Homo sapiens: one gene and its partner. The protein of the gene in region 2 purifies or fractionates together with the protein of the main gene of each other region. This does not show direct contact. Each region holds a gene or a part of one and is shown on either strand. Other genes may lie near its edges.

The links.
Region 1: the proteins of SEL1L3 (region 2) and MINDY1 purify together in Homo sapiens (affinity purification with mass spectrometry; 2 studies listed by BioGRID and IntAct, with this or other methods). This does not show direct contact.

What each region holds. Positions count from the first base shown.
Region 1 is NC_000001.11:150,994,360-151,005,757, forward strand, and holds the end of MINDY1 (ubiquitin carboxyl-terminal hydrolase MINDY-1), read right to left. Parts: intron 8,610-11,398; exon of another isoform or gene 8,348-8,609; coding exon of another isoform or gene 8,259-8,347; coding exon 7,806-8,258; intron 7,471-7,805; exon of another isoform or gene 7,424-7,470; coding exon 7,366-7,423; intron 6,956-7,365; coding exon 6,891-6,955; intron 6,257-6,890; coding exon 6,098-6,256; intron 5,609-6,097; coding exon of another isoform or gene 5,606-5,608; coding exon 5,503-5,605; intron 5,153-5,502; coding exon 5,010-5,152; intron 3,915-5,009; coding exon 3,723-3,914; intron 3,421-3,722; coding exon 3,265-3,420; intron 3,009-3,264; coding exon 2,928-3,008; 3' UTR 2,476-2,927; downstream 1-2,475. Other genes in the region: ANXA9 (annexin A9), read left to right, coding at 218-454. UniProt on the Homo sapiens protein: Hydrolase that can specifically remove 'Lys-48'-linked conjugated ubiquitin from proteins. Has exodeubiquitinase activity and has a preference for long polyubiquitin chains. May play a regulatory role at the level of protein turnover.
Region 2 is NC_000004.12:25,857,635-25,869,143, forward strand, and holds the start of SEL1L3 (protein sel-1 homolog 3), read right to left. Parts: upstream 5,355-11,509; 5' UTR 5,203-5,354; coding exon 5,041-5,202; intron 4,520-5,040; exon of another isoform or gene 3,493-4,519; intron 1-3,492.

The DNA of each region.
Region 1 (11,398 bases), on a different chromosome or scaffold from region 2:
CTCAAGCTGCCCCCACAGAGACTGATCTTTCCTGCTGTGTCATCTTCCTTGAGGATGGACAAACATAACTTTTGTCCCGAGATAATGTATAATGTACACTCTTATCCCTTGACTCCCACCTTGCCTCCCCTTCCTACAATAACCCTCCAAGCCATTCAACCCCTACTCTCAGTGAGACTCTCACTAACTACCCCCCATCTCTTTCTTCCCCTACTAGGAAACTGAGCCCAATTACCAAGTCCTGATTCGCATCCTTATCTCTCGATGTGAGACTGACCTTCTGAGTATCAGAGCTGAGTTCAGGAAGAAATTTGGGAAGTCCCTCTACTCTTCTCTCCAGGTGAAACTTGGCTACTTCTTAGCCTGGAGCCTCAGGCCTTCACTCCTCACCTCCACCCTCACTCCCTGCACACAGCTGAGCATATTCTTGCCCCATAGAAAACCCAGTAGTTAGCCAGGCACAGTGGCTCACGCCTGTAATCCCAGCACTTTGAGAGGCTGAGGTGGGCGGATCACGAGGTCAGGAGTTCAAGACCACCCTGACCAACATGGTGAAACCCCGTCTCTACTAAAAATACAAAAATTAGCCAGGCATGGTGGCGTGCACCTGTAATCCCAGCTACTCAGGAGGCTGAGGCAGGAGAGTCGCTTGAACCCAGAAGGCAGAGGTTGCAGTGAGCCAAGATCGTGCCACTGCACTCCCACCTGGGTGACAGGGCAAGACTCCATCTTAAAAAAGAAAACCCAGGAGTCTTTGGTTAATGTAGTGCAGGACTCTGAGCTCCCGGGAGGACCCTTCCCTCCCAGATGAACTGTGATGGACCAGCCCAAAGGAGGGGAGAGAGCACTTGGGCCATAGTGGTGGTGGATCTTTCTAACACTGAATTCCCTTGTCTGCAGGATGCAGTGAAAGGGGATTGCCAGTCAGCCCTCCTGGCCTTGTGCAGGGCTGAAGACATGTGAGACTTCCCTGCCCCACCCCACATGACATCCGAGGATCTGAGATTTCCGTGTTTGGCTGAACCTGGGAGACCAGCTGGGCCTCCAAGTAGGATAACCCCTCACTGAGCACCACATTCTCTAGCTTCTTGTTGAGGCTGGAACTGTTTCTTTAAAATCCCTTAATTTTCCCATCTCAAAATTATATCTGTACCTGGGTCATCCAGCTCCTTCTTGGGTGTGGGGAAATGAGTTTTCTTTGATAGTTTCTGCCTCACTCATCCCTCCTGTACCCTGGCCAGAACATCTCACTGATACTCGAATTCTTTTGGCAAACTTCGCTGTTGTTTGTGTTCCCTGATTGAAGGTTGGGTGGAGCAGGACATGGACCGGGAAGAGGCACTGGAGTTGGAAGTGCCTTTGATGTGCACTTGGCTATTCCGCAGGAATCCTGTTTTGCCTTAGTGCTACAGTAATCCACACCCAGGTCTCCCACTCCAGGTCTCCCCTCACCCTCATTCTCCAGGAAACTTCAGGCAAAATAATTGAGAAACAGGCATTAGAACAAGGTGAGAAATAGAGGGAGCAAAGGACCATCTGTATGAACTGGGAAGCAAGCGGAGGGCCAAGCTACCCTCCCCAGCATGGGAATTCTTGGGTTAGTGGAGAGCACAACCCTCAAATTCATGTGTCCAAGCAGAGATTTGGAAACCCACCTCCCAGGAGAGCACTATTTCCCATAGAAAACAAAAACAAAAACAGAAACAAAAACAAAAAGTCAGGCTTTGGTTCCCCCTGCAGGCTATATTAGAAATGACAGGTAGCTGGGCGCAGTGGCTCACGCCTGTAATTCCAGCACTTCGGGAGGCCAAGGCAGGCGGATTACTTGAGGTCAGGAATTCAAGACTAGCCTGACCAAAGTGGCGAAACCGTCTCTACTAAAAATACAAAAATTAGCTGGGCGCAGTGGCGCATGCCTGTAGTCCCAGCTACTCAGGAGGCTGAGGTAGGAGAATCGCTTGAATCCGGGAGGCGGAGGTTGCAGTGAGCTCAGATTGCACCACTGCACTCCAGCCTGGGCAATACAGCGAGGCTCCATCTCAAAAAAAAAAAAAAAAGAAAAAAAGAAATGACAGGTAACCACCTTCCTGCCTCTGACCCACCTCCCGCTTTTTGCATTCTTCAATTGGGTCAAATACTTAACCCTATTGCTTCAGGGTAAGGCAAACAACAGATCTCAGGAAAGAAGGTTTTTTTTTTTTTTAGACAGTTTTGCTCTTGTCGCCCAGGCTGGAGTGCAATGGTGCGATCTCGGCTCACTGCAACTTTCACCTCCCAGGTTCAAGTGATTCTCCTGCCTCAGCCTCCCGAGTAGCTGGGATTACAGGCGCCCACCATGACGCCCAGCTAATTTCTTGTATTTTTAGTAGAGACGGGGTTTCACCTTTTTGGGCAGGCTGGTCTCGAACTCCTAACCTCAGGTGATCCGCCCACCTTGGCCTCTCAAATTGTTGAGATTACAGGAGTGAGCCACCGTGCCCGGCCAGAAGTTTTATTTCCAAACCCCAGGAAGGCATTACAAATAAGAGATAGAAACCCAAATTAAGCTCTGAAACAACTGGAGACAGGCCTGCCTAGGTGATCAGGAGCATCCAGGCAGCAGGGATGGGAAGCAGAAGAGATGCATTCTGGATAGGGACCTCACCCCAGAGCCTCAGTCTGTACATACGTGTGACTATTCAGGGACCGGGAGTTGAGAACCAGAAACCCACCAATCCTAGTGTTGCCCTGGATGGGAGGCAGAGAAGGCAGCAGCACGTGAGGTCAAGGACATTACCAAGTCTGACCTTGGCATTTGTTGCCTGCTCTCATCCCCAACAGTCCATAAATAAGTTATCCAGCACATCTCAGGGGTGGAGGCGGGGGAGCAAGCCAACTAGCCATAGCCTCTGGAAGAAGGGGCAGGCCAGCCTGGCACTGGGGCAGAGCTACAGCAGAATGCAGTCTGACTCGTGCTTCGGCCTCTGCCGACGCTCCCCGGCTGGGCGTCCAGATGTGGCTCCTCTCCCCTGTATCGGATTTAACAATTGGTCACTGAACTTCCTTGGAAGAGCACAAGAAGAGATTCTAGAAGAAGGGGTGTCAGGATTGGGACAGAGAGTAGGGAGAGGAAGACAGGAAGGGGCTCCAGGGGAGAGGGACAGGCAGGGGAAGGACTCTGAGAGAAGAAACCTTGAAGAGACCAGTGCAGGAATAACAGGTGTTCTGGACCCGGCAAAGCATGAGGTGGAAACCGGGAGTGTGGGCGCCCAGGCAGCAGCCCACCTGCAGTGACAGGACCCGCGTCCGCATCCGCACTGGCTGCGCTGCCTGCTGCTGTTGATACTCCTCTTGCTGAAGCTGCTGGGCCAGCTCCAAGTCGGTAAGCCCCAGCGGGCCTCGTGGCTGTTGCTGCTGCAGGGACAGAGCAATCAGGTAGTCCTGGGGAGAACAAGAGTTGTGCAGTGGGCTGAGGCCCAGAGCCGTGGCTATTCAGGCAAGGTTTCCAAATCAGTTTTCCCACATCCCTCAAATTCTCTAGCTCTTTCTCCCCACAGAGCAGCACACACAGCCAAATGCATTATCTGTGGTGCCAGAGAATACACACCAAGTGAGGAGACGGTCTGAGGTAACCCAGAGAGAGAGGCATGGGTTCACATGGCCTCTAGCAGTTAAAATGTATGCAGTAAAAAGCTCTCTGAGGCACATGTGCTCTCTGCACTTTTCCTAAGTGCCCTACACACCTGGTCTACCTGCAGCTGCGTTTCTGGGGAGCCACTCCCACCTTCTGCTCCAGGCCCCTTGCCCAGGGAATGACTCAGGTGAAAGTCAGAGTCACAAAAGCAGCTGTCTCCATCCACATTGTGCAGGCTCTCCCATACGACTTGCTCCTCCTGTAGAAAGCCCTGGTCAGTGACCAGTAGGTATAAGTGACTCTACAAAGAAAAGAACAGAGCTCATTGGGGGGACAGTTGATACGGAGGCAGTTCACTGCCAGAAATCTCGGTATGAGCATGTGGACTTTTTTTTTCTTGGAGATGGAGTCTCGCTCTGTCATCCAGGCTGGAGTGCAGTGGCACAATCTCTGCTCACCGCAAGCTCTGCCTCCCAGGTTCACACCATTCTCCTGCCTCAGCCTCCCAAGTAGCTGGGACTACAGGCACCCGCCACCATGCCTGGCTAATGTTTGGTATTTTTTTAGTAGAGACGGGGTTTCACCGTGTTAGCCAGGATGGCCTCGATCTCCTGACCTCATGATCTGCCCGCCTCGGCCTCCCAAAGTGCTGGGATTACAGGCATGAGCCACCGCACCCGGACCCTGAGCATGCGGACCTTTTACAAATATGTGTGGCCTTGGGGGGAAGAAAGGGATGTCTGAGTGTATGTCCAGTTGGGTGTGAGCACGGTGGTCATTCTGGCTAAGCGTGGCATGGAGTCGTTGGGGCTGAGATGCCACATAAGACCCTGCTCCCCCCATTTCCCATTGTTCTCTGGGCTTGCCTGATGGCTCTTAGGATAAATCCTTTGAGAACCAGAGACCCCTCCCTCTGCTGCTCAAATCCTAGAGAGCTTTGGCAGTTTCTAACTTTTGAAGACCAGCATTGTTTAAAAATTCCACTGCCCCCTCCTAGGGGAGGATCATACTTTCCTGTCCCATCGACGGCAGGCTTATCCCTTATGGCTTGCTCTGGCCAGAAGATGTGAGCAGAAATGACATGTGTCATTTCCAAACAGAAGCTCTAAGCATGAGTGCACAGTGCCCCTCTCTCTCTCTGTTCCCACATATATTCCAGATAAAGGATCTTTTGTCAGCTGGGTCCCAGAGTGAAGATGGTGTGGGACAGAACCGTAGCCAGTCCACAGTGGACACGCACCAGGAGCGGGAAATGAACCTTTGTTGTGGTAAACCACAGGGATTTGAGGGGTCACTTGCTACCACGGCTTAATCTAGCTGATCCCAGCTGGACCCACGAGAAAAAGGCACCAGGAAATGACAGCACCGCAGCACGCCACCCCCAAACTCGCATTACCTTATGCTTAGTCATGGTGCTAAAGTGGTTGTTTCGGAAAAAGACGCTAAGTTCACCCTCCTTAGCAGCTGCTGTCAGCTCACACAGTCCGTGGTAGGTCAGCTGGGCCGCGGTGGTCTCCAGGAACTGCTCTGCAATCAGGCCTGCCAGAAAGGGACGAGTCGGGGGAAACTTGGCTTAAATTCAAGGTCCACAACAGGAAGGACCATCCAGAGAGCCCCTGTCAAAAGCCCCGGGGGGTCAGTCCCACCTTCTGACGTCCCTTTCTTGAAACCTGGCTGTATTCATTCACTTAACAAATACTTATAATAGAGCAGCTACCTTGTGCCAGGCACTGGGGATACCTCAATGAACTAAACAGAAATTCCCCAAGCTCCTTCTTGTGAAGCTTATATCTAGTGGGATGTGGTAGGAGATGACACCCAATAAAAAATAAGCCTAAGTAGCTGTCATTCCCTCCACATACTATCCATGAGAAGGGGAGGAATGTCACCTTCTGTCACGAGGTTGGTGTCACTGGAGTGTTTGCAGGTGATGATCCTCTCCACCAGCTGGTTGTAACTCAGTTTCCCAACTGCACGCACAGCCTCAGGACTCTGCTTGGGTAGTGGGATGTGGGATACCAAAAAAATTGGGATTTTTTTTTCTTTTTTAAGGAAGGAAATGAACAAAGCTCACAAGGACTACAACCCTGTGATGAATGGTTCCTAAACACTTTTTTTTTTTGGTCTCTCAAAAAAGAAAAAAATTTCAGGAACCATTCATCATAGGGTTGCTATGTTGCCCAGACTGGCCTCGAACTCCTCCCAAGTAGCTGGGAATACAGGCATGTGCCACCAAACCCATCTGCTTCCTGAATTTTTGATGTCTAAAGAACTGACCTATTTGCATGTAGTTTGCTTGTATTTGCATGTTACCCCCAAAATAGATTAAAATTCAAGGAATTCTGTACTGGGTCCAGTCTCTAAACACTATTTCCCTCCCAAGCCAATCTAACCCCTAACTCCCTAACCTCTACCCGACAAAAATTTGCCTCTCTCATGTCAGCTTGAGCTGGATAAGGTCCCAGTGGGCCCTCCCACCCTCACCTGTGGATCAACAAGCCAGCCATGGTACAGAGGTATGCCTAGCAGGTCAAAGACACTGCACTCGGGTGTATACTCAAAATCAGAGACGCCTGTGAATCGCACATTGACATCCAGACCTGTGGCCAGTTTAGGCAGCACTGTCATTGCATCATCCACATTCTGGGGGTAGAAAAAAAAATGATGGAGATTCTAGCCTTCTCTCCCACCACTCCACTCCCACCTGCAGAAATTAAAAATTAACCTTGCTGCTCTTCTTCCCTGATTCTCTTACAAGCCACTCCATTTCTCCCTTGCCTCAACCCTTCTCTATCTTATATAAATGAACATTGTTTTTCTTTGAGAGTCTAAGTCTAATTCTTTCATCCAGGCTGGAGTGCAGTGGTGTGATCCTAGCTCACTGCAGCCTCAAACTCTTGGTTTCAAGTGACCCTCCCACCTCAGCCTCCTGAGTAGCTGGGACTACAGGCACGCACCGCCATACCTGGCTAATTCTTGAAAAAAAAAATGGTTTTTTTTAGAGACAGGGGTATTATTATGTTGCCCAGGCTGGCCTCGAACTCCTGGCCTCAAGTGATCCTCCCGCTTTGGCATCTCAAAGTGCTGGGATTACAGGTGTGAGCACCCGGCCAATGAACATATTTTCTAGGACAAAGATAAACTCTCCTCTGACTCCTGCAGAATGAAATCATGGTTCAAGGAAACCTCTGAAGAAGCAACAAAAGCTTATCTTAGTATTACAAGATGTCCCCTTACAAACCTGCAAACCCCTATGCCTGCAGACCTTTTGCCTCACCTGCTGAAAATTAAGCTGAAGTCCCTCTGACTTCTCCTGGGGCTTGATGGACAGGAGGCAGTTTCCTACAAGACAGGGCCCCTTATCAGCTTACCCCACCAATCATCCCAAAAGCTAAGTTTCCTCTTCTCCTGGAGAATGCGGGTAATGTCACAGAACACAGATTTTCAGAGCTGGAAAATACTTAGAGTCTAATCCAGACTCTTCATTTCTCAGAGGAGGCGACAGCCTCATAAAGGTGAACGGCCCACCCAGGGTCAGATACAAAAGCTAAGGGCAGAATTGGTGTTACAACCCAGGACTCCCGACGCCTTTGCTTTTCATTCTCCAGCCTTGCAGAGAAGCCCCATAGACCCTTACCCTCCCTGCTGTATCAGAACCCCCAAATGGAGATCCCTGAATAGTCTGGATTTCTGGCTGAGTGGATAGCTCTGGAGCCCCTTGGGTAATTCCTCTTCAACGCCCAGTCACTCACCAAGATGGGCCATGAGCTCATCCGATGTGATCACTTCCTTCTGCGGGGGGAGCTTCACCTGGAGGCAGAAGGGGTGATCACGTGTGTGCTTTCCTCCAAAGAGCACTGAAGGAAGAACCCATGGAAAGGCAAGGGGGAGCTCCAGTAGTAGGGTGGGGTAGGAAAAAAGGCTTGCAACTGGCACAAGGGAATGAATGTGAAATCTTGCAAGGCATGTGCATTTGCTAGGGAGTAGGAGATACAGGGGTAGGACAGATCTTCCTCTTTTTTTTTTTTCTTTGTTTTTAGGAACATCTTATCTCATTTGCTCAAGCTGGAGAAATAGGGAGAACAATCTGAAAAGTTTTGACTAGTTTGAGGACATCAGGATGATCAAGGAAGTAAGTCAGGGAAGAGTACTCCCTGATATTTTTTGCACCCCTAACTGCATGTTCTCTTACCTTCCACTGAAGAAAGAGGATGTTCATGATGGCAAGGAGAGGGCAAGGGCCGTTAGTGCTCTGGGTGATGATGGGTGTCTGTTCTCCTTTCCAAGGGATCCACTTGACACAGTAGAAATCTGGCTCAGGCTGTCGGGTCCTGGGGGACTGAGGAAGCTCCTGGGGCATGGAGCATGCCCTTATTGTCTCTACTTCAGGCAGTGTCCCAAGGGTTGGCCCCGGTGGAGCTGAGCTAGCTTCAGGCAGAGGGGACTCAAGGTTGTCCCCACACTGGCTAGGCAGCAAAGCTTGGTCTGCTGGCTCCCGTTCTCTAGCCTCCCCATCAGCATCTCTTGCATCTGTGTCCTGAGGGTGCTCATCTGGGCCTGCCAGAACCTCATGGTTTTCAGGGATGACTGCTTCTGCAGTCCCGGCCTTACCAGGGGCTGGATCCTCAGGCTGATGGTATTCCATGGTCAAAAGGGACTTGGCTGAGGGGCACTGAAGGTGTTTACTAACCTCAGGGACTTGCCTAAGCCAGGCTTGGGATGCAAAAGAGTGACCTGTCCAATAAGAAGGAAATCAGTGGGCTGGAAAGCAAACTAACCCAGAAAAGTCTTGGAAAAGGAATGTAGTGTAGAAGGCTGGCTAGTGTTTGTGCAGTAACTCCTGGCTATGGGCAGTATATGTGTAAACAGAAGGGCCCCGTGCTGAGCTCTTTCCACCTCTAACTTGCTGTGACCAGATGAGACCAAGAGGTCGTGGGGCTTCCAGACTTGGGAGGGAAGACTGGTGGGATTGAACACATGGGTGGAGTCAGCTTCCCTGAAACAGATCATGACAGGGAAGGGAGGAAAGACAGAGAGAAAGGGAGAGCACAAAGGAGAAAGAAGGATAAGAGGTGGAGAAAGAAATGTTAAATCTACGCTAATGGTTATTAATATGATGATCTTTAGCTTACTCTAATAGGCATCACATCAGTAACCCCCTCATAGCCATGACAGAGATAATTCCTCTGCCCTACCCCACACCCTGCCCCTTCACACAACATACTAAGAATACACAGTGCTTGTATGTTTAGGGATACCTTCTCTCTGCCTCACCCAAGGATAAAAAGATTAAGTCACATAGTACTTGGGGTGAAGAATGGAGGAGGCACAGAGAGTCAGTTTCATGCCCCTAAAGGTGAAATGCTGGTGAGGAAGGGGAAGTCTTCCACCTCAAAGGGCTCTACTGAACCTTACACAATCCCAAACCACAGTATAAAGGCCTTGGGAGGGGTTTCCTGTAAGCTGGGAGGGGAAATGTAGGTGGTGGGGGCTGGAATCAGAGACTGGTTTTGATAAATAACTTCAGATTAGGGGCACAAAAAGCACTCCCCACAAGTTCTTCCAGTAAGCTTCTCTTTAAAAAAAATTAATAAAGATATCAAATTTCTTTTAATTAAACTGAGACAGGGTCTTGCTTTGTTGCCTAGGCTGGTCTTAACTCCTGGGGGCCCAAGCAATCCGCCCTCCTCAGCCTGCCAAAGGACTGGGATTACAGGCATGAGCCACGGTGCCTGGACCCAGTAAGCATCTCTTGACAGCTAGCATTGAGACAGCAACTTTTCCTCAGTTCATTTTTTTTCCCCAGAAACTACCTAAACCCAGAGGTACTCTCTTGCCTGCTATTTCTATGAAATATGAAAATGCTGATTATTAATTTACATAACAATACTTCCTGTACATTCACCTACCTAAAGTTTTATGTCTATTCCCATCCAAGTGGTTTTATTTATTTATTTTTATTTTTTTGAGACAGAGTTTTGCTCTTGTTGCCTAGGTTGGAGTGCAATGGTGCGACCTCGGCTCACTGCAACCTCTGCCTCCTGGGTTCAAGTGATTCTCCTGCCTCAGCCTCCCGAGTAGCTGGGATTACAGGCATGCAACACCATGCCCAGCTAATTTTGTATTTTTTAGTAGAGATGGAGTTTCTCCATGTTGGTCAGGCTGGTCTTGAACTTCCGACCTCAGGTGATCCTCCCACCTTGGCCTCCCAAAGTGCTGGGATTACAGGCATGAGCCACCGTGCCCAGTCCTCTCCAGGTCATTTTAGATGTGAACACCGGACCTGTTTAACCTGTTCTCTATCAGCACTGGAGGCACATTGAGGCAAGCACAGATAGACATTTAACTAATACTGTGGGTATAAATAATAAAAAACCACAAATCCTGCCCTTTGGAAAACATCTCCCTTCAATCTCCTTGCTCCCCTCCCACTCTTTATCAGGGAGAGAAACAGGGAGAAATTAAACTAGTTAGGGGCCAGGCGCGGTGGCTCACGCCTGTAATCCCAGCACTTTGAGAGGCTGAGGCGGGCAGATTACTTGAGGTCAGGAGATCGAGACCATCCTGGCTAACATGGCAAAACGCTGTCTGTATTGAAAGTACAAAAATTAGCCAGGTGTGTTGGCACGTGCCTGTAGTCACAGCTGCTCGGGAGGCTGAGGTGGGAGAATTGCTTGAACCTGGGAGGCAGGGGGTTGCAGTGAGCTGAGATGGTGACACTGCACTACAGCCTGGGTGACAGAGCGAAACTCCATCTCAAAAATAAAATAAAATAAAATAAAATAAAATAAAATAAAATAAAATAAAATAAAATAAATTAAACTAGTTAGAAATCTTGTCTTTTCTCCACCCTCCTCCCAGCCTGAGACTGCTTCCTTCTTGTAAACCTACAGGAATTTGGGGCTAGGGGAAGGCCTGGGAGATGAGGTTGAGGAACATTAAAGTTACTGAAACAAAATAAGCCTAGTCACTCAAATTGATTATCCTCTTGATTCACATATGTTTATGCTAGCTGCATATCATTTACGTGTTGTTAATTTAGAATCAGAGTAGCAAAAATTGCCTGCAGGCCTTATGCTTTTTTTTCTCTCTCTTTCTCTCTCTCCTTTCCTTCTCCCCTTAAATGACACTTAGGGTGAACCTCAAAGCAGATGCCAGAGCCTGGAAAAGTGAAAAAGCTTGAAGAAAAGCAGGCCTTGGCCGGGCACAGTGCCTCACACCTGTATCCCAGCACTTTGAGAGGCCGAGGCGGGCGGATCACCTGAGGTCAGGAGCTCAAGATCGGCCTGGCTAACATGGCGAAACCCCATCTCTACTAAAAATACAAAAATTAGCCGGGCACGGTGGCGGGCACCTGTAATCCCAGCTACTCAGGAGGCTGAGGCAGGAGAATTGCTTGAACCCCGGAGGTGGAGGTTGCAGTAAGCCAAGATTGTGCCTCTGCACTCCAGCCTGGGTGACAAGAGTGAGACTCTTGCCTCCAAAAAAAAAAAGAAAAAAAGAAAAAAAAAAAAGAAAAGCAGGCCTTATTTTTTATATTTTCTCTCCAGTGCCAGAAATGATCAATGATGAAGTGGGGGTTGGGCAGCTAGCTGGCTGGAGAGGTGAGCCAAAGGAACCCAGGAGTGGACACCTGAGGGAGTGGGGTCTCAGAGGAACTGGGCAGAGCTAAATGGGCTAAGTCTTAAGAGGCAGGGGCAGGAAATGTAATGGAGGCTTTCTACTCTACAACGTCCAATCCTGCTGGGGAGGGCATGGAGTATTTCAGAGTAGGAAAGAATGAGG
Region 2 (11,509 bases):
GCCCAAGGTCAACCAGCTACCAAAAAGCAGAACCAAAATTCAAATCCACATTGGCTGACTCCAAAGCCAGGGAAGGTGTGCCTCTTGTCTTCTAACAACACCCAAAGATGATGCCCTCAACTCACGTCCTTGCCTTTATACACCTGTCACCGCTTTCTGGCTACAGGGTTGGGGAATCTCATGACTTTCCTTATTCCCATCTTGAAAGGGTTGGGGCTAAAATGCCATTATGCCGGCATGCCTTGAGTTTGGAGGAGACAGATATTGCCTTAACCACAAACACACAAACACCAGACTCAGCCAGCTCCCCAGTATAACTAAGCCCTTCTCCAGGTAGAGACTGGAAACAAGGCCTGCCAAGGCAGAATCCCATCAGCCATTCCTCATGGGCCGAACACGCCTCCTGCCCCTCGGCTCCTTTCTCAGGGGAATGGCATGAGCCATTAAACAGGGTAACTGAATTCACTTTAGGCTATTTACGGTCTACTCCAGTCTATCCATGTTTCCAGCGAATTGCCTGGGTTATTCTCTCCTACCTGTCCTCTAGCTCTGACGCTTTTGCCAACAGGCAGCCAGAAGAAATAGAAGGCAAGAGGCCAACACCATGGCTTGGGAAATTTTAGGAGCTCCAGTCAGGATGAATATGGAAGCTATTGGTTGATGTGAGGTTTGGGGATGATCTCTATTTTCAAATATTCATAATACCTCTCCCTCAAGCTAGATAACTGCAGATCTCTTTACCTCGTTTTGATCTTCTCATGCTCTGCATTGCACACATAGTGAGGGGTTAATGAATACTCTTAGATGGATGACCGAGGGTGTGTGGCCACTTACAGGGAATCCTGTACAAGGCTCTGTCACAGCCGCTGTCTGCTAACTGTCCCACATGTATCTGTTCTGTTTTTTTGTTGTTGTTGTTTTGTTTTTGTTTTTTTTGATTTTTTTGTTTGTTTGTTTGTTTGTTTGTTTTGAGACAGAGTCTCACTCTGTCGCCAGGCTGGAGTGCAGCGGCGCGATCTCAGCTCACTGTAACCTCTCCCTCCTGGGTTCAAGCAATTCTCCTGTCTCAGCCTCCCAAGTAGCTGGGATTATAGGTGCACGCCACCACACCCAGCTAATTTTTGTATTATTAGTAGAGATGGGGTTTCACCATGTTGGCCAGGATGGTCTCGATCTCCTGACCTCGTGATCCGCCTGCTTCGGCCTCCCAAAGTGCTGTGATTACAGGCGTAAGACACCGCGCCCAGCCTCTGTGCTGTTAATGTCCTCTTACTTCTTTGTCCTCAGTCTGATTGTCTAACAAGTGCAGCTATCCACTCCGAACATTTCAACTGACAGCTGACATCAATACTGGCCATCCTGAGATTTATCTTTTCATATAAGAAAATATTATACTTTGGAGACCAGAGCTTAGAACGAACAAAATTGTTTTCTGGAAGTGCCATTATCACAGATAGAGAGCTGGGGCAGCCTCAGGCTGGTTCTAGCCAAGTTGGAAGAAGGTAAGAGTTAATGGTGTAAGAAAATAGCAAGAAGGCCCGTTGGGCAGGGAAAGTTCTGCGTGGGGCACAGTACTCAGCACCCGCGACCTCAGTGGAAGCAATTTCATTATCTTTTGCTTTCGAGGCCCTCTCCCTCTCTGAGGAGGCTCTCTGCATCTTGGCCTTTGGTGACCTCAGAATTTTCTGGCAGCCACTGGAACCAGGGATCATCTTTTCAGAAATCTGTTTGGCATCGTTCCGTGACTTATCTTTCAGCCCTCATCACAATTATTCATGCTTTGGCAGTATCCTAGCTACAGACACAGTACTCTTTTTGAGCTGATACTGAAGGTTACTCCGTCCCAGCCTATGGAGACGGAAGGCACCCACTCCTCAGGACCCTGACTCCAGGAAGCATGCTCCCTGTGAGGGCAGGTGCTTAAAGGCATCTATTCAGAAGCTGCTCTCAACCTCCAGCCCTTGTGAACAGGCAAATAGGTGAAGATAACACAAAACAGGAACTGGTCCCCAAATCATAGGCAATTTGGCTTTGGAATGCATTCCAAGGCACATTTGCTGTACACTTGTATGCACATTCATCCAAACTCAAATGCTAAACTCTACCAGCTGCCTCTGGACTACATAAAAACCCCAAACCTTTATCTCTTCATTAACGATGGCAAATATTTTCTGGCTTTACCTTTCTTCCCCACTTTAACATCCTGCTTCTATTCTGTGGCCTGCGCTTCCTGCTTTGTATATTTTAGATTACTTTAGACATGACCTCACATCCTGGCCAATTGCACAGTAGCTGCTAATTGCTAGAGCTCTGCTAATGGCCCGTACATCGATGAAGAATGAGTTACAAGCAGCAAAATCCAGAAGACAATAAGCTAGTGTGGTTTAGAGCTGGGGCTCTGGAGGGAGACAGATTTGGGTTTCAATCTCAGACTGTATGGCCTGGGGCAACTAACTTAACCTCTCTGAGTCTCTGTTATCTCATCTAAATGGAGATTATAGTAGCTCCTACCTCAGAGGGCTGTTGCTAAGATAAATACTGGATAATGCCTATAAACGATTTAGCACAATGTATAGCACAATGTAAGCTATCGTTATTACCATGTAGGCTTTCAAATTATGAAAGACCTTTCCTCCTCTAGAGTCTACATATTCCTGGGATCCTGCCCAGCTATTCTGCTCCATCTCTACCCTGCACCTGCCCAGCCCCATCCCCCTGACCAACCACTTCCTCCAGGTAGCATTCCTTGATTGAGCAAAATGCACACAATTATACATTTGCGTTTTCTCTCTATTGTTTTATGTTTTTCAAGTGTTTCATATGGATATTTACATTTTCCCCAATTCTCACACCAAGCTTCTCCAAGATCAAGAAGCCTTGCCTTCAGTAGTATCTTGGGTAGTGTAGACCCAAGAGCAACATCCCTAGTAAACGGCTAGATCTTCAGAACAAAATGTGGAGACTACCTTTTAAGTCGGCCTTTTGTGTCCTTTGCAAAATGGCTCTCTTGTTTATCAAAGTCTGTCTTGTACAGTAAGCGTATCAGAAGTCCATCTGAAGGAAGCATACAAAGGCAGGAAGCACTGACATTTCCCCCCACCATGAGGTCCCCAAATCCATTCCTTCCCCATCTGCCAAGACATTCATCCATGCTCTAGTTATTTTCCACATCACAGTATTTTCTAAAATTACTCTTTCCGGAGCCCTTCCTCACTCCTTCACTATCTCACTTGAGTCTATCCATGGCATCATTTTTCCCTCTGTTCTCTTAATCCCCCTTGGTGTACACAGAACTTTCACAGGAATACTTGCTCCATCATTATCTGTCTCTGTTTCCAGAGTCCACTTAGGCCCTTAGGCTTTGCTCTCCTGACTCTGACTTCCTGAACTGTCCAGAAGTAGTCCCCCTCCTTGCCAGGTCTTGAGATGTCCACGTGGAACTTTTCGGCCCGGCCCATTTGTATATGAATGTTTCACGCAACACTCTACTACATCACTTCTGCTTCTGTGGGTAGCCAGCAGGGCCCTGTGTACAGGGATCATCTGTTTAAACTGAAATCTTGTCATTTGTTATGGCAGTTTTATTTATGAGCCTGTGTGTTGTAACCTTGTGGCATAAATATTAAATAATAATATCTCTTGGGCAAAAAAATATCATTCATGTTAACTGACAACTTCTTATGAAAATATGAAGTAAGCCCAACCACACAATTTGATATTGGCTAATTCTGAAATATGAGTAAAAGCACGGATTGCTCAACAGGTAGATGCACAGGCAGAATTATAATTTGCATTTTTACACCTTCTTGCTTCAAGAAATGAAACATTCAAGAAGTAAAAAACGTTAAAAGAAACGGGCTGAGTGGCAAATTTCTTCAGAATCAAATTCTAATTTCTGCCAGTATCTCCTAAGCAGTTTTTAGCTTCCAAAAAGAAAGACTCCAAATAATGACAATGCCACATAAGTGAAATGAATTCTGGACAATGACACTGCTCTTTTTTTTTTTTTTTTTGGCATTCTGTGAATTTCCTATTACATCAGTTTCATGATTCAGCATTTTCCATTTCATTTATTTACAGTAATATATGGCGAGATAACCCAAGGTTTCTGCAGGATTGTGGAACATAAGTTACTCTGGGCAGGAAGGGTGTCGCCTTCTGTAAATTTACTATTGTTTAGGAGAACTCAAAACAGAAGCAAGCAAGCCCTCAAAGGAACTGAGAAAATTTCTCCCCACTTTGTTCTGAGGGGTCTCAGCTACTCTGGTATTTAAAATAAATGGGTTTTGAAAAATAGGTTACTGCCCTTTAGTTGATGACTAAAACAGAAGCCAAGAAGTGTGCAAATTGCAAACTGACATGCATGAGCCAAACATATTCTCTGAAATGACAATGTTCAAGACGCAGCTAAAGTCACCACTCTGGCGGTAAGCGTGTTACAGAGAACTAGATTTCTTTCCGGCATCCGCAACTTGGCTGGAGTGACCAAGGAGGAGTTGAAGAGCGCTGGAGATGCGAGGTGCGTTGGCAGAAAACTGTCCGGGCCGGGAGGACCCGGTGGAAACTAAAAGGAGGGTCGACGCGGGTGGCGGGCGCCGAGAGTAAGAGGCGAAGTTGGGCACGGGAAGGAAAGGAGCTGCGAGAAGATTGAGAGGGAAGCCCAGGAGGGGTGGGGGGTTGGGGGGTGCTGGAGACTGCGCGCGGCGGGGCGGGGAGCGAACTCCGGGCGGCGAGGCTCCCGGGTGGAGTCGAGGACAAGAAGGGGTCTCGAGGGTAACCCGACCCGGGTCTAGAGAGAGTCCAGGAGGGAAAGGAATGAGCACGAGCGAGAGAGCAGCTTGGCAAGTCCGGTCCAAGCGCCCCTCTCCACGCCCGGGGTACCTATCCCAGGTGCCGGGAACGCCCGGGGCGCAGCGACGAGGAAGAGAGAAAACTAGCAGCGGCGTCCCCGCCCCGCGTGGCGGGTGTCCCCGGCCGCCCCCACCCGCGTCCCCGGGGCCCCGCGCGGAGGGGAAGACCCGGGCAGGGTCCGGCGCTCACCAGGTAGCAGAGCAGGAGCAGCGCGCAGGCAGAGCGGCCGCCGAGGCCCTGGGGGACGCCGCCACTCGGGACCATGGCTGCGGCCCGGGGGCCGACCGCGAGCGGCGGGGGTTGCTGCTGCTGCTGCCGCGGCCACCCGAGCCCCGCGCCGCGCCGCTGCATGGCGAGGCCGCCCGGATCCGGGCCGGAACAGGTCACCTGGTGCAGGGACCGGCCCCCGCCCGAGGCGCCACCTTCCCGCCCGCCCCCGGCCGGGCCGGCCGCCGCGCGCGGGGCCACCTGCCGCCACCTCCGGACCCGCCGCCGCCGCCACTGCCGCTCCCGCCGTCGCCGCCCCCGCAGCCCCAGCCGAGCGCCGGCTCCTCCCCGCCTCCCCGTCCCCGTCCCCTCCCTCCCCTCTGCCTCCCTGCCCAGCCCTCCTCCCGGCCGCTCCCTCTGGCCCCCGGGCTTCCACCCCTCGGAGCAGCGGGCGCCCACGCAGGTGGGCACCGACCCGGGTCCCGCCCCTTGGCCGCCGCCACCCCCCGCCCGGGTCGCTGGGCCCCGGCGCACCCCCCTTTCCCTTTCTCTCTGCTCCTCCCCCGCCCCCCTTCCGCGCTCCTGCTCTCTGCGATCCCCCTCCTCTCCCTCCGGCTCCCTCTTCCTTCTCCCCTCGCGCTCCCAAACCCCCTCTCTTTTTCACTTTCTCCTTTTCCTCCCTTTCCTCTTTCTCCCTTCCCATCCTCTTCCTCGCTTCCGCATTCTTCCTCTCCCACCCACCCCTTTTGCGGGTCGCACAGACCAGTTCCCGCCCGTGCAATGGGTTTTTGTCTGGTTGCTTTTTTGGCCGGGGCGCCATTCCCGCAGGGCGCAGGGCGAGTGTGCCCCCTGGAGTTGTGCCGCGCAGCTGCCCGGCTCCCAGGCCTTCAGGATGGATTTTGACCCCTGCCAACCTCCACCTGTCCACCTGCGGGGTTGGGACTGCCTCCTTGCTGGCATGTTTGCAGCCGGGCTGCGCCCCACCCTGCCGGCTGGTTCGCGGCACGTTCTGGATGTTTCCCGAGGGTTTTGTGTGGTGCCGCCGCCACCGCCACCACTGCGCTCTTTGTTTTAATTGTCCAGAGTATTGGCACCCAGGACGGGTTTGTATTTGATTTGCATCCCTGTGCTCCGGCTTCCACTTTGGACTGAGAAAAAAATGAATTAATTAGGTCAATACAGTAATACTGGAGCCCCAAATGAAAGGGGTGAGGCCCTGGAAGTGCGCAAACAGCTTTTTAAAAAACCAGGACACATCCTCGGCCTTGGGGACGCAGGTTGAGACTGGCTGCTCTCCGACCCGGGTTCTGCGGCCTGGCGGGGAGGGGCCTCCGGCCGGCGGGACCACCAGCTCGCCGCCGGCCTTGGCTTTCAGGGAAGCGCTTGGCTGTGTCTAGCGGCTCCGACAACTATCTGGGCCCGCAGCTGCTGCTCTGAAACAGTTAATCCACCTTCCAAAGTTCGCAGAAGCTTCCCTTTAGCACTGGTAGATTTGTGCGGATTGGAACTAATAATAGCCTGGGAGCCTGAGAGGCCACAGCCCTTTCCCTGTGCCACGAGCATAGGTCAAGTCACAACAGACGTCGGGGAGAGGCTGGTGGTGAGACGGGGTGCCCGGGATGGTTTGACGGGCGTGGACGCGCCCTCAGCTGCTTCAGTACAGGCCTGGCCACACCAGGCATGGTGGCTCCTCAGCTGTCGTCCACTTTTTTTTAGGTCACCTAAGAGCTGTGGCCTTGTGTGAGTTCCCTGGCCTTATTCCACCGGTTCTCAAACTTCAGAATTACCTGGAGGGATTGTTAAAACACAGATTCCTGGACTTCAGCCCTAGAATTTCTGACTCAGTTGGTCCTGGGAGGGACTTGAGAATGTACCTTTCTAACAAGCTCCTGGGTGATGTTAACGCGCTGGTTCAAACAGCCCTCCTCCATTTCCAGAACTATTGGCTTTTAGGGAACTGGGCTCCTGCTCCTCCCAGCCAGCTGCCACCACATTAAAGCATTTTGGGGGTTTTGACAGATGCTCCCACTATCTCTGTTCCACTTCTGCAGAAACAAAGCACTTAACATTCTTCTGTGTGACGTGGAAAACATTTATTCTATCGAGTGTCCAAGGGAACAAAAGATTTGGTGGCTTTGTCCCAGATCCTGTCTATATCTTTTCCATCAGGTCAAAATACAGACTATGCTTTTAATGTATATGGAAGGAAAATTGTCGGCCAGTTCAGGGGGAAGGGGCTTCAACAGGCATTGCAGCATTTCTAGGGTTGCCACCTGTCTTCCTGGGCCACGCTCCGGAGTTTCTCTCCTCCCACATTGTACACAGATTCTGTTGGTCTTCGGGGAGCTAAATGGTTCCTCGGGGTTGTTTGTAATCAGGATTCATGGAATTGGGAGTTTTCAAGGCCTTGTGAGCTTTGAGGATTTGGGTTTACCTAAGTGTAGGTAAGCAGAGTGCCCCACTGGAGGCTGGACTGTTTCTAACTTGCCATATCCAACTGCTCACTTCTCCCCTACTCACTCATCTCCTATTGTGTTCCTACTGTGGACTGGGCACCACCTGAGGCCCCAGGATTCCAGAGGTAGGCAGGAAGGCTCTGTTTCTGCAAGGAGCACCAGGCATGCAGAAAACCGGCCAGAGTTTGGTCTTCTAAGAGGGATGTGTGAGTTGCTCTCTCATCCTGAGCTAGAGGTGGTGGGATTAACTGCTTCATCCTGTGTTGGAGAGGGGGAGAGAAAAAGTCAAGATTTCTTTTCACGGGGGAGTGGGACGTTTTGATCCAGAAGACAGAATCAGCTCTTACTTTTGCGTCTCTCCAGCAGTTTGTGTCAGTCATTGAAAGGGCGTGGTCTGATTTCAGAAGAAAGCCCTTTATTTAAAAAGAAATATATCTTCCCATTGTCCCATGGAAGGGCTTGAAATCTCACCATTACAATTCATCAGTTTAAATTAAGTTTTAATACTCCACTAAAAGTCGAAGGCCCCAGGGGGAGATTGGCCTCCCTTATTACTGCCTTGGTGTGAGTCAGTTTATCACATGCCCTTGGAAAGGGACCAATTCCACACCTCAACACGGGAAAGGACAAAGGCACAGAGTCCTGAGCTCATCATGGCCCGCCCCTAGGAGGAGACTTCAGAGGCCTGGAGGGAGGGGCTGGAGAAAGGACTGCATCTGCATGCCTAGGTGGCACATCATAGCATTCCAGGTGAGATGTTCTGAGACTCTGAAATTTTTTTTCTTTTTTTTTTCTTTTTGAGACGGAGTCTCACTGTGTTGCCCAGGCTGGAGTGCAGTGGCGTGATCTCAGCTTACTGCAACCTCCACCCCCTGGGTTTAAGCTATTCTCCTGCCTCAAGCCTCTAGAGTAGCTGGGATTACAGGCACCTGCCACCATGCCCAGCTAATTTTTGTATTTTTAGTAGAGATGGGGGTTTCACCATGTTGGCCAGGTTGGTCTTGAACTCCTGACCTCGTGATCCACCCACCTAGGCGTCCCAAAGTGCTGGGATTACAGGCGTGAGCCACCATGCCTGGCCCAAAATGGTTTAAGATCAGTCACGTCTCGGGGACCAATGCACTTGGTCAACTATTACTTTACCAAGCAAAAATAGTTTTTATAAACCAACTGCATATACTATCTTCTGTCAGTATCATTTCATTAAAAAGACAAGGCCTTTTGCCATCAAAAAATTAGGAAGGGCCTAACATCCTAAGAAAAGACTGGTTTGGGTGCCATGGCTCATACTTGTAATCTCAGCACTTTGGGAGGCCAACACGGGTGGATCACTTGAGCCCAGAAGTTTGTGACCAGCTGGGCAACATGGTGAAACCCTGTCTCTACTAAAAATACAAAAATTAGTCAGGTGTGGTGGTGTGTGCCTGCAGTCCCAGCTACTCAGGAAGCTGAGATGGGAGGATCGCTTGAGCTCAGGAGGTCAAGGCTGTACTGAGGTCTAATCACACCACTGCACTCCAGCCTGGGCGACAGAGTGAGACCTTGTCTTAAAAAAAAAAAAAACAAAAAACAAGCTGTTCTTTAATCTGAATATTTTATTTCCGTCTTGTCTTTATATGTTGCATTTTGCTGTGGATCAGTAAAAACTTACCTTTGGAGTGGCCCTGTCCATGTCGGCAGTTGGTAACCACATTTCTATATACTAAGGATGTCTGGGGCAAAGAGATCTGCCCCTGCGGAGACAAATGACCTCCAGATTACAGGAGGTGGGTAGGAAGGCATTCTGCAGGAGTAGAGAGTGTTCCTTCCATCCACTTACCCTCCCACATAAATCTTTGAGGCCGAGGCAAATGCTGCCAGTTTTAGGGAATCTTCCCTCATGGCCTCAGGTCGAAACGCAATGGGTCGGTTCTCTGTGCCCCCAGCAGGCATTGCCTGTAATCCTAAGTGGCCACTGGCTAACTCTGCCTTATATTGGGTATGTTAGTTGGCCTGTTCTCCTCCAGTAGACTATATGCCCCCCGAAAGCAGGGGTTATTTCTTAACCGTTTCTCTGTACCCCCATGCCTTGTACATAGAACATTTCTGACATATTCACTGAATAAAGTTGAATCCAACATCTTCCTTTTTCATTTTTTCCTCTCCATCTTTCTTCCTCCCTCCCTTCCTTCTTTTCTTTTTTTATTCATTGTTGTCTCCCCAGTCTCTTCCTGTTAGAACATGGTTATTTCCACACTCAGGTTTCTCTGTAATTCTGCAGTCTTCTCCTTTCTTCCCCCTCCCTCTTTCCTGTAATTTCAGTTATTCAGAATGAAGATGAATGAACCGTGACATTTGCCTTTTATATCAAAATAAAAGAGAAGAAAGCAGAAATAGAAGAGAGGAAAGCAAAAATAGAAGATTGCTGTCAGGCAACACACTCCCCATCCCAATAGGAAAACCATGGTCTTTCTTTCTGCCAAAGGTGACCTCTGGGATCTAGACAAATCCTGCATGCCATTGTTTTATGGGCAGTATTTCCATTTTTCTTGTGGCCCCCTAGCCATTACATTCCCTAAATCTATTTCCTGTCTCTGTTTCTCCTTGTTTCAAATCCTCCATGTTTAACAGTTACTTCTTGCTTCTTCCTTCCATAGAACATCCCATCAGATACCAGCCTCATCTCCTCATCCTCAGACCCCATCCTTTGAGCCTCAAATCCCTGACTCTGCAGACTCTTTCCCTATGGGCCACAGAGCCCTTGCCTTGGGAAGTTGTGGTAAAGGAGGAAAAGGAAGCATCTGTGTAAACTGAAAGCTTTTCCGTGTATTTTTATGGGATGCTGAAGGTCTTGGAATCACTCGGTTTGTAGCCCAGGCATGCTCCAAAATGAGCTCTATTTCTGGGCCTGTCAGATGAAATGCTGTTGCTCCTGGTTATTTTTGGCTCTTTGCCCTTCTGAATAGGTGCATATTCAGCTCAATTCTTTCCCCCACCCTGAGCTGGGGGAAAAAGCGGGCAGCTTCCCTTAGCCAAGCCCTCCCCTGTGTCAGGAGCGCTTTCCCCCTTAAGCAGCAGCTACTGACATAAGCTCTCTGGACAGCGCACGACTTATTTGTGCAGTGTCCAGGTGGGCAGCAGGGAAATCCATTCTCTGGCTCTCTTGGGCCATTGAGGGAAAGCTTTGTGAGCTGAACATTTCCAGGCAGGTGCAACCAGATGTCCAGGGCCTCCTTATTCATACCCAGGTCTGCATCCTGCCCCACCGCCATAGTTGCAGAAACTTCTGCCATCCTTGGGGGGTATCAGGATAAGAAGCAGGGATTTCAGGCTCAGCGACCACAGAAGTCCCTGTATACTGGGTGTTTGGGGAAGGAAAGTACACAGGATGCAGAAGATCAAGGGCATGTGTCCATAGATGTAAGGACATCTTGGGGTCCAGGTGCCGTGGCTCACGCCTGTAATCCCTGCATTTTGGGAGGCCGAGGCAGGTTGATCATGAGGTCAGGAGTTTGAGACCAGCCTGGCCAGCATGGTGAAACCCCGTATCTACTAAAAATACAAAAAAATTAGCTGGGAATGGTGGTGTGCACCTGTAGTCCCAGCCACTCCGGAGGCTGAGGCAGGAGCATTGCTTGAACCCGGCAGGCGGAGGTTGCAGTGAGCCGAGATCGTGCCACTGCACTCCAGCCTGGGTGACAGAGCGAGACTCCTGGAAAAAAAGAAAAAGAAAAAGAAGAAAAGATGTAAGCACATCTTCAATCTTTGATCTTTGAGTGAGGGTGTTGAGAAGAACATGTGTTTGAAAAATGAATAAAGCAGAGAGAAGTTAGGGGTGAATGTGCATATCCAGTTGGGACAATGAGTAAGAGAAGAGTGAATGGGCACCGAGGGAGAGAATGTCACTATAAATAATTGAAAAGAGAGTGAGTGCACATGAGAGCTTGGGGAAAGGCAGGTTGTGCCTATAAGTCATAGGCATATTTTATAACTGCATTCTGCAGCTCAAATCGCAA